3 linked regions of the Homo sapiens genome follow. The protein of the gene in region 1 interacts with the protein of each later gene in a pairwise test. Each region holds a gene or a part of one and is shown in the gene's direction. Other genes may lie near its edges. The genes, in order: UBQLN1, SCMH1 and LHX5.

What was found.
Region 2: the proteins of UBQLN1 (region 1) and SCMH1 interact in binary tests that used the Homo sapiens proteins (3 or more experiments, as listed by UniProt).
Region 3: the proteins of UBQLN1 (region 1) and LHX5 interact in binary tests that used the Homo sapiens proteins (3 or more experiments, as listed by UniProt).

The regions. Positions count from the first base shown.
Region 1 is NC_000009.12:83,666,439-83,670,092, reverse strand, and holds part of UBQLN1 (ubiquilin-1), read left to right. Parts: intron 1-765; coding exon 766-908; intron 909-1,461; coding exon of another isoform or gene 1,462-1,563; exon of another isoform or gene 1,564-2,585; intron 2,586-3,654. UniProt on the Homo sapiens protein: Plays an important role in the regulation of different protein degradation mechanisms and pathways including ubiquitin-proteasome system (UPS), autophagy and endoplasmic reticulum-associated protein degradation (ERAD) pathway.
Region 2 is NC_000001.11:41,113,247-41,116,900, reverse strand, and holds part of SCMH1 (polycomb protein SCMH1), read left to right. Parts: intron 1-3,347; exon of another isoform or gene 3,348-3,374; coding exon 3,375-3,618; intron 3,619-3,654. UniProt on the Homo sapiens protein: Associates with Polycomb group (PcG) multiprotein complexes; the complex class is required to maintain the transcriptionally repressive state of some genes.
Region 3 is NC_000012.12:113,465,358-113,469,011, reverse strand, and holds part of LHX5 (LIM/homeobox protein Lhx5), read left to right. Parts: intron 1-607; coding exon 608-885; intron 886-1,590; coding exon 1,591-1,756; intron 1,757-3,654. UniProt on the Homo sapiens protein: Plays an essential role in the regulation of neuronal differentiation and migration during development of the central nervous system.

The DNA.
Region 1 (3,654 bases):
TATGGAATTCACATAAATTCAGCTGTAGCCCTTGGCAATAAAAGGAAAAACAATAATCATAAGTGCTTTGTACATTAATTTTCTTACAACCACCCTATGAAGTAGATACTGCTTTCTCCATTTTACAGATGGGGAACCTGAAGTATGAAGACGCTAGATAACTTGCCCAAGATCACATGGGTTAGATTAGATTTGAACCCACGTAATCAGGCTCCTGATACTGCTTGGAGTCACTGTGCTCTATGGTTTCAAATGTTAAATGTGCCTACCATTTTACTCAGTGAGTGGCAGTACACAGTGAAAATGGGTGGAGGCATTACATCTTTTGTTGCCTTGGGCATGAAGGCTTACTTCTTTCATAAGGGTGGGCAATATTAAGTGCCGAATATGATTCTAATTAATTCTTTGCAGTCTTGGAGGAAAAGTTGGCTCAGTCCTTTTCACTTTATGGAATTTTTCAGCAGTAATTTTGACCATACGTAATTTTTGCCTTAAGTTGACTTCAGAAGCTAGCTCTTCATTAGACAAGATTTTACTGTAAATGCAGAATGTTTAAACTCATCAGTCCTCTTTTCCTGGTATATGTTGGGCATGTACTTTTAGAGATGTTTTAGTTTTAAAGTTCTTTCGTAGTTCAGTTGATACATAATATGTATAATCATTTGTACTTGGTGAAATTAAACACAGTGCATATTATATTTTAAAGCTTTAACTTTTGTTTAAGTATTTTTCCTTAATATGTCTTTTTTAAAAACAAACTTTCAGCTAGTATGTTCAACACACCAGGAATGCAGAGCTTGTTGCAACAAATAACTGAAAACCCACAACTGATGCAAAACATGTTGTCTGCCCCCTACATGAGAAGCATGATGCAGTCACTAAGCCAGAATCCTGACCTTGCTGCACAGGTGAGTTTGTAATTGTATTGAAAAAGACTGTGCAGTGTGAATTAAAATAACCTAATCTTGTAATTGTGATTTTGGCACATTTGTGTTGTGTATGATATCTTAATACACTAGAAAAATAAGTAAACTGTGTCTCCAATTTTTTAGACCGTGTGTTTCTTTGCAGTAAATTAATACTTCATATGTAATTAAAACAACTTTATCTCTGCCATTCATTGACTAGAAAGAAGTGCAGGTTTAGTTTGTTTCTACATATGTTGAGTTAGGAGACAAGTACAGAGTTCTGGAATGCCCACTCTTTTGAAGATAAACTACTTAATGAAATGTAAATCTTGAAAGCAATTAAGAGCAATGTTAATACATTTGAAATACTTTTATTTAGTAGATCACTCAGATTATAATAGTCATGCTCAGAATGGCAGTTGTAAAATAGCATTTATTAAAGACGGGAATTTGTCAGAACAATGTTCTCCTTCTTTCAACTATTGATTCCCCTGCTGAAAATCGTATACAGGTCCCTTATTAATGTATTCCTTTTTCTAATTTGTTTCTAAAGAGACCACAGCTAAGAAAATTGGGGATCTTAATGCTGGCTGAACACTCAGGATCACTTGGGAAGCTTTATAGACAGTACCGATGGTTGGGGCCTCATCCTTAGAGATTTTGAGATAATTGCGTCCGATAACCCTTTCTCCCTCAAGTTGCCTAGGTACTATCTAGGTTCCATACCACAGGGCTTGAAAAACCACGGAGAATGTGAAATAAACCTTGATAATCTGTAGTTTATATTTGCTGTTCGTTAAAAATGGCTTCTGTAGTGTGTCAGGAATTTGGAAGACTTTATAGTTAATCTCATCCCTTAAATTTTAAAAGCTTTAAGTCAAATGAATGGTTTTTATTTTCTAAATTCTAAAACTATATTGATTCAGGTATCTTTGTGTATAATTCTCAGTAATAACTTATGCCCTCACCAAATTTGTGGAATTGGAAATAACAAATTTTAAGAAGAATTTTTGTGTCTGTGATTCTGTATATTGGAGGTACATTTTATGGAAGATTGATTTATGCATATGAAACTTATCAGACTGAGTTGTTAGTATTAAATGCTTCAATTTACCATAATAAGCCATTTTAAGTGTGTATTTGGCTAATACTGAATGTGCATCTTGCTTTTAAAATTTGACTTTAACAAGCACATGCGTAGCAATTTTGTAATAATCTTACTTTAGTAAAGTGACTTGAGCACTCACATACTATTTTTTTACTCTAAAACAAAATGTTGCTAGTACTAGATTGGCATGTCTTTTATTACAGATAATTTAGAAACTTTTACAATGTTCTTGTTATCTGCAGATTAAAATTTGTGGTTTTTCTATTCTTTTGATTTTTAAATATTTAAAAAGACTCTTGAGTGTAAAAACTTGTGGTATAAGCACTCAGGTAAGTTATAAGAAGTATCTAATAAGATGATTATCTGTGAAAGGATACGTTTAAGATGACATGCTTTTTTAAGATGAAATGAAGTGAATTCCAAAAGATATGTGTGATAACCTCGTTAATATGTTGATGATAAGTATTTGGAACCAATAAAGAAGCAGGTTTGTTGACCTTAAGCCTGTATGAGTTTACTTACTGTGAACTTACTGGTCACTTTGAAATAAATACTGTATGTTCCTGAAAGGTTGTCTGACATCTGCTTTTGTTATTGTATTGAAATTAACTAAAAGATCACTTTGCAAGAATTGGGGCGAATTTTCTCTACCAGCATTTACATTGCTCTTAAATACGGTTAACTTCTTGAGGGCAAGGATCATTTCCTCCCCAGACTTTGGATAGATAAATAGGCTATCAGTAAATCCTTGTTAGTTGACTTTTTACTCCGCCTGGGGAAAATGATATAAAATGTGTCTTTTGAAGCTACAAGAATTTATTAGCTCTGGTTATGCTCCTTGTGTATTTTAATCTTATTTTCAGGTATATGACATCATACTAATAATGATCCTGATTTTTAAATTCTTAACGTTTATTTGAAGTTTAGGAGATGCCACTTTTCTCATCTCTGGTAGTAGTGAGGTGAAATCCAGATGCTAATCTTGGTGTTCTCAAATGGATTTACATCTTTTAGGTCTTAAATCATTTTAATACTTTTCCCAGAGGACTGTTGGTGCTAGGCCTGACTGATTTTCACCTAGCAGCTCCATTTCTCTGGCAAGTTGGTTGCTGTTTTGCGGTGTTATTTTTTTGGACCTAATATTAGCTGTTTTGTAGTAGGCAGGTAGATGTAGTGGTCCTTTTCAGATCTAGATTTTCTCTGTGCCTGCCACTTGTGTGTTGAGGTTTCTAAGCAAGCCATGTTACATAGTTCATGTATTGATGTTTATGTTTATTCTGCCAGTGTAGTAGAAAATATATCTTCATGAATGCCAGTTACTCCCATTTTTCTTTCAATGGCATATATTCACGTTTGTTCAAGGAAAAGCCTAAGAAAATGATTGCTTTTATTTTTTAGGATATTGCATGTCATTATCATAACCACCATTCTCATTGAGAGAGAATATGCCTCATTTTTTTGTTTTTGTTCTTCTGGAGATCCCTCTTGTGGACAGTATCTTCCCTTTTCCTTTTTTTATTTATGTTCTACCTTCCTCCCTTTTAAGTGCCAGCTGAGGCACTTGGGGGAAGATAGAATAAAACAAGGTACATTACTTGTTTCAGATATTTCCAGTTAAAATTGTTTGAACACTTGCCC
Region 2 (3,654 bases), on another chromosome or scaffold:
ACCAGCTCCAGGCTGCTTAAGGTCAAATATTGAGACTTTGATGTCCACATTTACTTATGGCCTGAAGATGCCTTCTCAGAAATTAGTTCAGAAGGATTTTTTAGTAGCTTATGAAGCAGCAATTATCCCCAGAGGAATATATTAGACTATAAGGTCCCATAGATTAGATTATATGGTCCCAGCTTCCAGTAATCTCTGTTTACCTGTCGGGCTTGTTAAGAAGTTAAAATGTATTATTAGTAGAATATGTTAAATGTAATACAAATCTAAAGGCGCTATTCTTATTATAGATCTTGGAGTTCTGTAGAGTTCATGTTCTAAACAGAGAAAAGAAGGAGACTTTTTTTATTGCCTACGATATGTTTGGGACTTTATATATACTATCTCATGTAATACCCACAGCTAACTTTATGAACTAAGAATTATTATTTCCATTTAATAGTTAAGGAAACAAATACTTTTGAATTAGGAGCTTGCTCAAGATCACGTGGCTAGTAAGCGGCAGAACAGGGATCCAAAACCTGTATTTGTTATTGCTTCTCAAGAAGTGAGGCAGTGAGTCTATCAGTTGAATTTTCTAATGGGGTAAAAGTTACTGTAAAGGGTATTAAATTAGGTTTGCCTATGCTGCTAGTTAAGTCTCAACACTAAGAGCATCCTGCTTCTGAATTACCTAGCACTTATGTAACTCAGGAGTAGTTCTTGTATTCTTTGGGACTAGAAATAAAGATGAGTTTTAGACTTTGTTATGCCAGCTGTGCAGTAAAGGGATCTACCAAAAGACTCCAAGTAGAATGTTTAACTTCCGGATCAGTGGAGGGGGAAAATAGAAGAAAACTTAGTTGATTGAAAAGGAGAAAAAAGAACTTTGGAAATTCAAATTAAATAGAAACATAGACAATAAGGTAGTTGTAATAAATTCAGATACATCAATTATCACAAGAAATGAGCTTAAGCTCATTATAATCATACATAGATCAGATTTTTAAAAATCTAGCTATATGCTATGTATAAGAGACACTAAACATAATGACAAAAATGTTGAAAGTAAAAGAAATCTACAGAGGGTGGGAATGATGGAAAACAAATTTTTTAATTTTTAAAAAAGAAAATAAAAGAATATGAAAGATGTGCCAGATGAACTTTTATCAAAATAAAGCTGGCATAAACTATACGGAAATCACGCAAGACTTTGATACTAAAAGTCTAAATGATGCTAAAAGCACTGAGTCCAGGAATTTGAGACCAGCCTGGGCCACCTGTAGCAAGACCCCGTCTCTAGAAAAAATTTAAAAATTAGCTAAGAGTGGTGGCACGTGCCTGTAGTCGCAGCTACTTGGGAGACCGAGGTGGAAGAATCGCTTAAGCCCAGGAGATTGAGGCTGCAGGGAGCTGTGTTTGCACCATTGCACACCAGCCTGGGTGACAGAGCAAGACCCTGATTCTAGAAATAAATAAATAAAATGCATTAAAGAGGTCACTATCTAATTATCATAAAGTACAGTTCACCAGGAAGATAAAACAGTCATAAATGTACATGCTCCTAGAAAATGTAATCTCAAAGTATAATAGAGCAAAATTTGACAAAATTACATGGTAAAATTGGAAAATCCACAAATCACTAGGGAATATTTGAAGACTTATCTCTTAACAATTGATAAATCAAGCACACAAGAATTGGTATGTCAATCAGCATAAGCTAATAATCAGTATCGAATAAGTTGGTCAATTTTTAAAAATCACTTTATTTGCATTTAACAACAGTTAAATTTAAATGATTTGAAAATAAATTTTTTAAATGCCACTTATGATAGCAATGGAATTGTAATTTGCCTAGAAAAAAAGTTAGTAAAAAAGCATGAGATATTTATAGAGGAAATTTTTAAATGTATGTTGAAGAAATCTGCATTAAAGAAATCTTGGCCAGGCACGGTGGCTCATGCCTGTAATCCCAGCACTTTTTGGGAGGCCAAGGCATACGGATCACTTGAGGTCAGGAGTTCGAGACCAGCTTGGGCAACATGGTAAAACCCCATCTCTACAAAAAATAACAAAAATTAGCAGAGTGTGGTGGTGTGTGCCTGTAATCCCAGCTACTTGGGAGGCTGAGGTAGGAGGATCACTTGACCCTGGGAGGCAGAGGTTGCAGTGAGCCAGGATTACACCACTGCACTCCAGCCTGGGTGACAGAACCAGACCCTTTCTCCAAAAAAGAAAGAGAGAGAGAGAGAGAGAGAGAAAGGAAATCTTAACAAGTGGAAAAGACTATCATGTTTATGGATGGGAAGGCTTGATAGTATATAATAAAGGTTATTTCCACCCAAATTTATCTATAAATTCGTTGTAATTCCAGTCAAAATCCTAATAGGGTTTATATATGGAACTCGAAAAAACTGATTGAAATTTATATGAAAGACAGAGAATGAATAGCAAAAACAATATTGAAGAATGACAAAGTAGGGGGACTTTTCCTATCAGATATCCATTTAATAAGACTATGTTATTGGTACAGGATCAGATAGTAAGATTAAGGGAACAGAATAGAATGTACAACACATTTTTTGAAACTTGATCTATGTAACTGCATTACAAATTAGCACCCAGGAACTCTCTACACTTCCGGTGAAAGTATACAATGTTACAACCACTTTGGAGTACAAGTTAAAAATATTTGATAAAGCAGAAGATGTATATATCTACCCTATAACCCAGGAATTCAGGAATTCTACACCTAGATGTATAACCTAAAGAAACCTTCCTACACATATACAAAGAAGTGCAAGGATGGTGGTTAAAACTCTTTTAAAATAGTAAACAATTGGAAAGATCTTTAAGTGTCCAAAGGAGAATGAATAAATTTCGATATATATATACAATGAAATACTATTACAAGTTAAAATGAATCAGAGCTAAATTTATCAACATGGGCAGATTTCAAAAACATACTGCTAAACAAAAAGCAAATTGTACAATGATATATACAGTATAATACCATTTATATAAAATTTAAAAGCAGGCAAATGGGTATGTATGTATATAGTAAAATATAAAACATGCATGGGTAGCTGTTACCTCCGTGGTAGGTAGAGGGGGAATGGAATATGGGAAGGGCAGAAAGGGAGATTCAACTTTATCTGCAACCTTTTATTTCCTTTTTAAAAAATCTGAAGCAAAGTTGTCAAAATGTTAGGATTAATAAAGTAATACTTTAAATATTGAAATATTGAATTTAAAATTAATTTAAAAGAAAGGCTATATATCCATTATAAGTCTCATGTAGCAGTCACTTTTTAATCATCCAAATTAGATAGTAGTCTATTGGCATAATGGCCTCTCTTTGTGTCTAGGTGTGTATGTTTCTGTTTCTCATCTAGGAGCCACCATCGCCTTCCCACAACTTCTTCAAAATGGGAATGAAGCTAGAAGCTGTGGACAGGAAGAACCCTCATTTCATTTGCCCAGCCACTATTGGGGAGGTTCGGGGCTCAGAGGTGCTTGTCACTTTTGATGGGTGGCGAGGGGCCTTTGACTACTGGTGCCGCTTCGACTCCCGAGACATCTTCCCTGTGGGCTGGTGTTCCTTGACTGGAGACAACCTGCAGCCTCCTGGCACCAAAGGTAAAGGCCCATCTACGTGCTCTTGAAATCAGGACC
Region 3 (3,654 bases), on another chromosome or scaffold:
TCATCAGCCCCAGGCAGTTCTAGGGCAAGGCAAGGGGGTTAGAGGCTAGAGAAGAGAAGTGGCTTTGGAGCAGGTTTTACAGGGGATCTGAGACCTGCCAGCTCTGCCTCACCCTCCTCCAATTCAGGAGCCTTTTCCAAGTTGCCCTCCTCCCCTAATTTGGAAGCGCACAATTCCCCCTTATGTGTCACTTGAGCTCCAGGTAATTTCTTGATGCACTGGAAGGACATTAATTGAGGTCTGGAGAGAGGAGGGAAGAGAGAGGAAGATCCAAGCCCCAAGGGAATCTGTGCCCTCCTTGTCCCCTCTCCTTGAAAGTGGGAGTTCTCCAGAGGGTACGCGTCCCCCTACCCTTACCCAGGTACTAGCTGAGACGCGCGGAGAGGGCTTAAGAGCGCCCCTCCAAAGGCCCAGCCCCGCCTGGAGAGAGTGGGCGGGCACCGGGTCCCTGGGGGAGGGGCTGTCGCAGGTTTGGGAGGGAATCCAGCGGGGCTGGCCGTAGCCTGGGCAGGCCGTAGCTTGGGCCGGCGGGAACCCGCCACTGGACTGAAGAGGCGTCTGGCCGTCGCTGACGCCGCTGTCCCCTTCCCGATCCGTCCGCCCGCAGTGTCATCCTGTACGGACCGCAGTTTGTCCCCGGACCTCCAGGACGCACTGCAGGACGACCCCAAAGAGACGGACAACTCGACCTCGTCGGACAAGGAGACGGCCAACAACGAGAACGAGGAGCAGAACTCGGGCACCAAGCGGCGCGGCCCCCGCACCACCATCAAGGCCAAGCAGCTGGAGACGCTCAAGGCTGCCTTCGCCGCCACGCCCAAGCCCACGCGCCACATCCGCGAGCAGCTGGCGCAGGAGACCGGCCTCAACATGCGCGTCATCCAGGTGCGGCCCGGGGCGGGCACAGCTCCTTAGCCCCGCTGGCCTGGGAGCCGGGAGCCTCGGAGGAGTCTCCCGCCAAGCTTCCTTGGCTACGAGCGCGCCTGGTTCTGGTCTGGGAGCAGACCGTGCGCCCGAGTGGGGCACTTGCCCGAGGTCGGGGACTGTGAACCGAAAGATTCCATCTAGCCCTGCTGTCCTCCTGGTATTGCGATTTGGGGGCGGGTCACTTTACCTCTCTGAATTCCGCCCCCCGCCTTGCTTATGGAAGGTTGTAAGCCTCTCTGGGGTCCGGGATCCCTCTTTACCTCCACCTTTCGAGCAGAGAAACAGGCGATGCCCCCTCCCTCCCTGCGCCGAAGCGCGGGCAGACAAACGGCCAGAGGCTGGCTCCGGAGCCGAGGGGCCGAGGCGAGAGCCGTGCCGGGAGGGAGGCCTTTATAGAGCCGTCAGGCCGCGGGCGAGCCGGGGACCAGGAAGCCCAAGTCTTTATGAGTCGCCCCACGGGTCCGCGAAATCCTTCACCCTTGGCTGGTTCGCCGAAGCCTCTCTCCACCCCTCCCGGCCTAATCCGGCCCGGCCCCGCCTCGGGGGAGTCCTGGTGCGGAAGAGGCGCAAGGACCCAGCAGGGGCAGCCCAGTCAGGGAAGGGAGAAGAGGGGGGGAGAGGACACTCCTGATCCTGGGTTCACAGCCCCCTCCTCTGTCCCAGGTGTGGTTTCAGAACCGACGGTCCAAAGAACGCCGGATGAAACAGCTGAGCGCCCTAGGCGCCCGGAGGCACGCCTTCTTCCGGAGTCCGCGGCGCATGCGTCCGCTGGGCGGCCGCTTGGACGAGTCTGAGATGTTGGGGTCCACCCCGTACACCTACTACGGAGGTAAGGGGCGCCCCGGGATTCGCTGTTCCGCACCTGTCCTATTCCGGGAGCTGAGGGCGAAGGGTCCCGGCCAGCACGCTTTCCGCCGCTCCAGAACATCGCCCACTCGCTGGACACACGATCACAGACACATGTACACTCACCCACATGTCCTGGACACAAAATCAGATACATGGTCTCACCCATACAGTGATGCACACAGAAGCACACACGAGATACAGTGACACATTCACCCACGCAGGGCACAAGGTGCACTCACACTTGCGTTCAGAGACTCCAGGGACACACGTCTAGACACGATCGCACGATCACGTATAGGTAAATTCCACCCTCTCACACACAGGTACACTCACGGAGACACAACTCCACAGACGCGCACACTCCCACCAGTCACACTGAGGCCAGTACTGGCAAATCCACATGCATGCGGCCCCCACGGACAGACGCACAGCCTTCCTGCCGCCCTGTGCCTGGTGTACTTGGCATGAGGTGGATTCCGAGCGCTGGAGGGTAGTGTGAGGGGAGGGGATGGGGGTCTGGATTCATTCCAAGCCGCCTGCTCACTAGCATCGAAGGCAGCAACTCCTGTTCCATGTGGCGGGGTGTGTGCGCACAGCATCTGGCAGTGTTAGCCCAAATGCCGGCAGTTGCTCTGGGCAGGACTGTAGTCCACCCTCCAGCCCCGAGACCCCTGGGGTTCCTACAGACTGGGGGCACAAGTGTTGGGCCAACCCCAGATTTCCACCGTCTTTGGGGCTGCAGAGAGCGAGGAGCCCCAGTTTACAAAGGGCTTCAGATGGTGGTACCAGGCTTGGGCCTGGGGTGAGCTGTCCCCTTGCCACCTCAGCTTTTCCTCCTCTCACTTCCCTCACACTGGATTGGTGAGCCATCCCAACTCCCCCTATCCGATTTTTTCAGCTCCTTACCCTGAGCCGCATTGCTTGAGCTCACCAAGCTCACTGTCCTGTTCTTCCCAGGGCTGAGGGCTCAAGAAAGCACCTCTCCTCTTCTATTCTGAAGCTTCTGAATTTGGAGAGACCCCAGGACTGTCTATGTCTGAGAGGCATCTGCACTTCTGAGTTGTAACGCAGGTTAGGAAGAGGCAATTTCTCTTAGAAAGTGGGTTCAGTGGCAGTGTTAGCAAGGCAGGAGCTAGGCACCCAGGTAGACGCAGAAGGGAAGGGAAGATAACCCCATCACTAACCTCAGCACATCCGGAAGCCTGAGGGGGGATTAGACCTTGAGACCGGACCGGGGCCCCTAGAAATTGTGGGCAAAATGCCAGGCTGTGCTTTTCAGGGCAGAGACCCCAGGCAGTGGCAGGGCTCAGGCTGGAGCGCCCCAGCCGCCCAACCCTGGACAGCCCCCCAACCCTGGACAGACCCCCAACCCCGGACAGACCCCCAACCCTGGAGAGCCCGGATGGTGGGCGTGTCTTCCGGAGTCTCCACTCACCGACTCTCTCCACCTAAATTTGCCTCTTTCCCTACAAAATCTGGGCCCGGAGCAGCGAGGTAGTGGGGGCGGTACCGGCCCGGAATTTTTCCCCGCCTGGATAATTAACCAAGGTTTCCCCGAGGACCACTTCGCCCCCGCCCCGACCTATCCCACCGCCTCCTCTCCCTGCGCGCTGGATGAGGTGGGGAGCTGGATACTGGGGGCCCCTCGTTCCCCGTAATGGTGGGGAAGACTCCCCAGCCCCCAGCGAGGCAGCCCCGCCTAATCCGCGCTGGGAGATCCCGGCGGTGGCGACCGGCAGCGGGCGAGAAAGGGGCCGGGCGGCGGGGCCGGCGGCTCCCCGTGGGAGCGCGGACAAAGCCCCAGCTGCGGCTTTTGTGCCCTTTTCAGACGGCGTTTGTTCCAATTACCTCCGGCCCGGCCGCCATATGGGCGGAGGC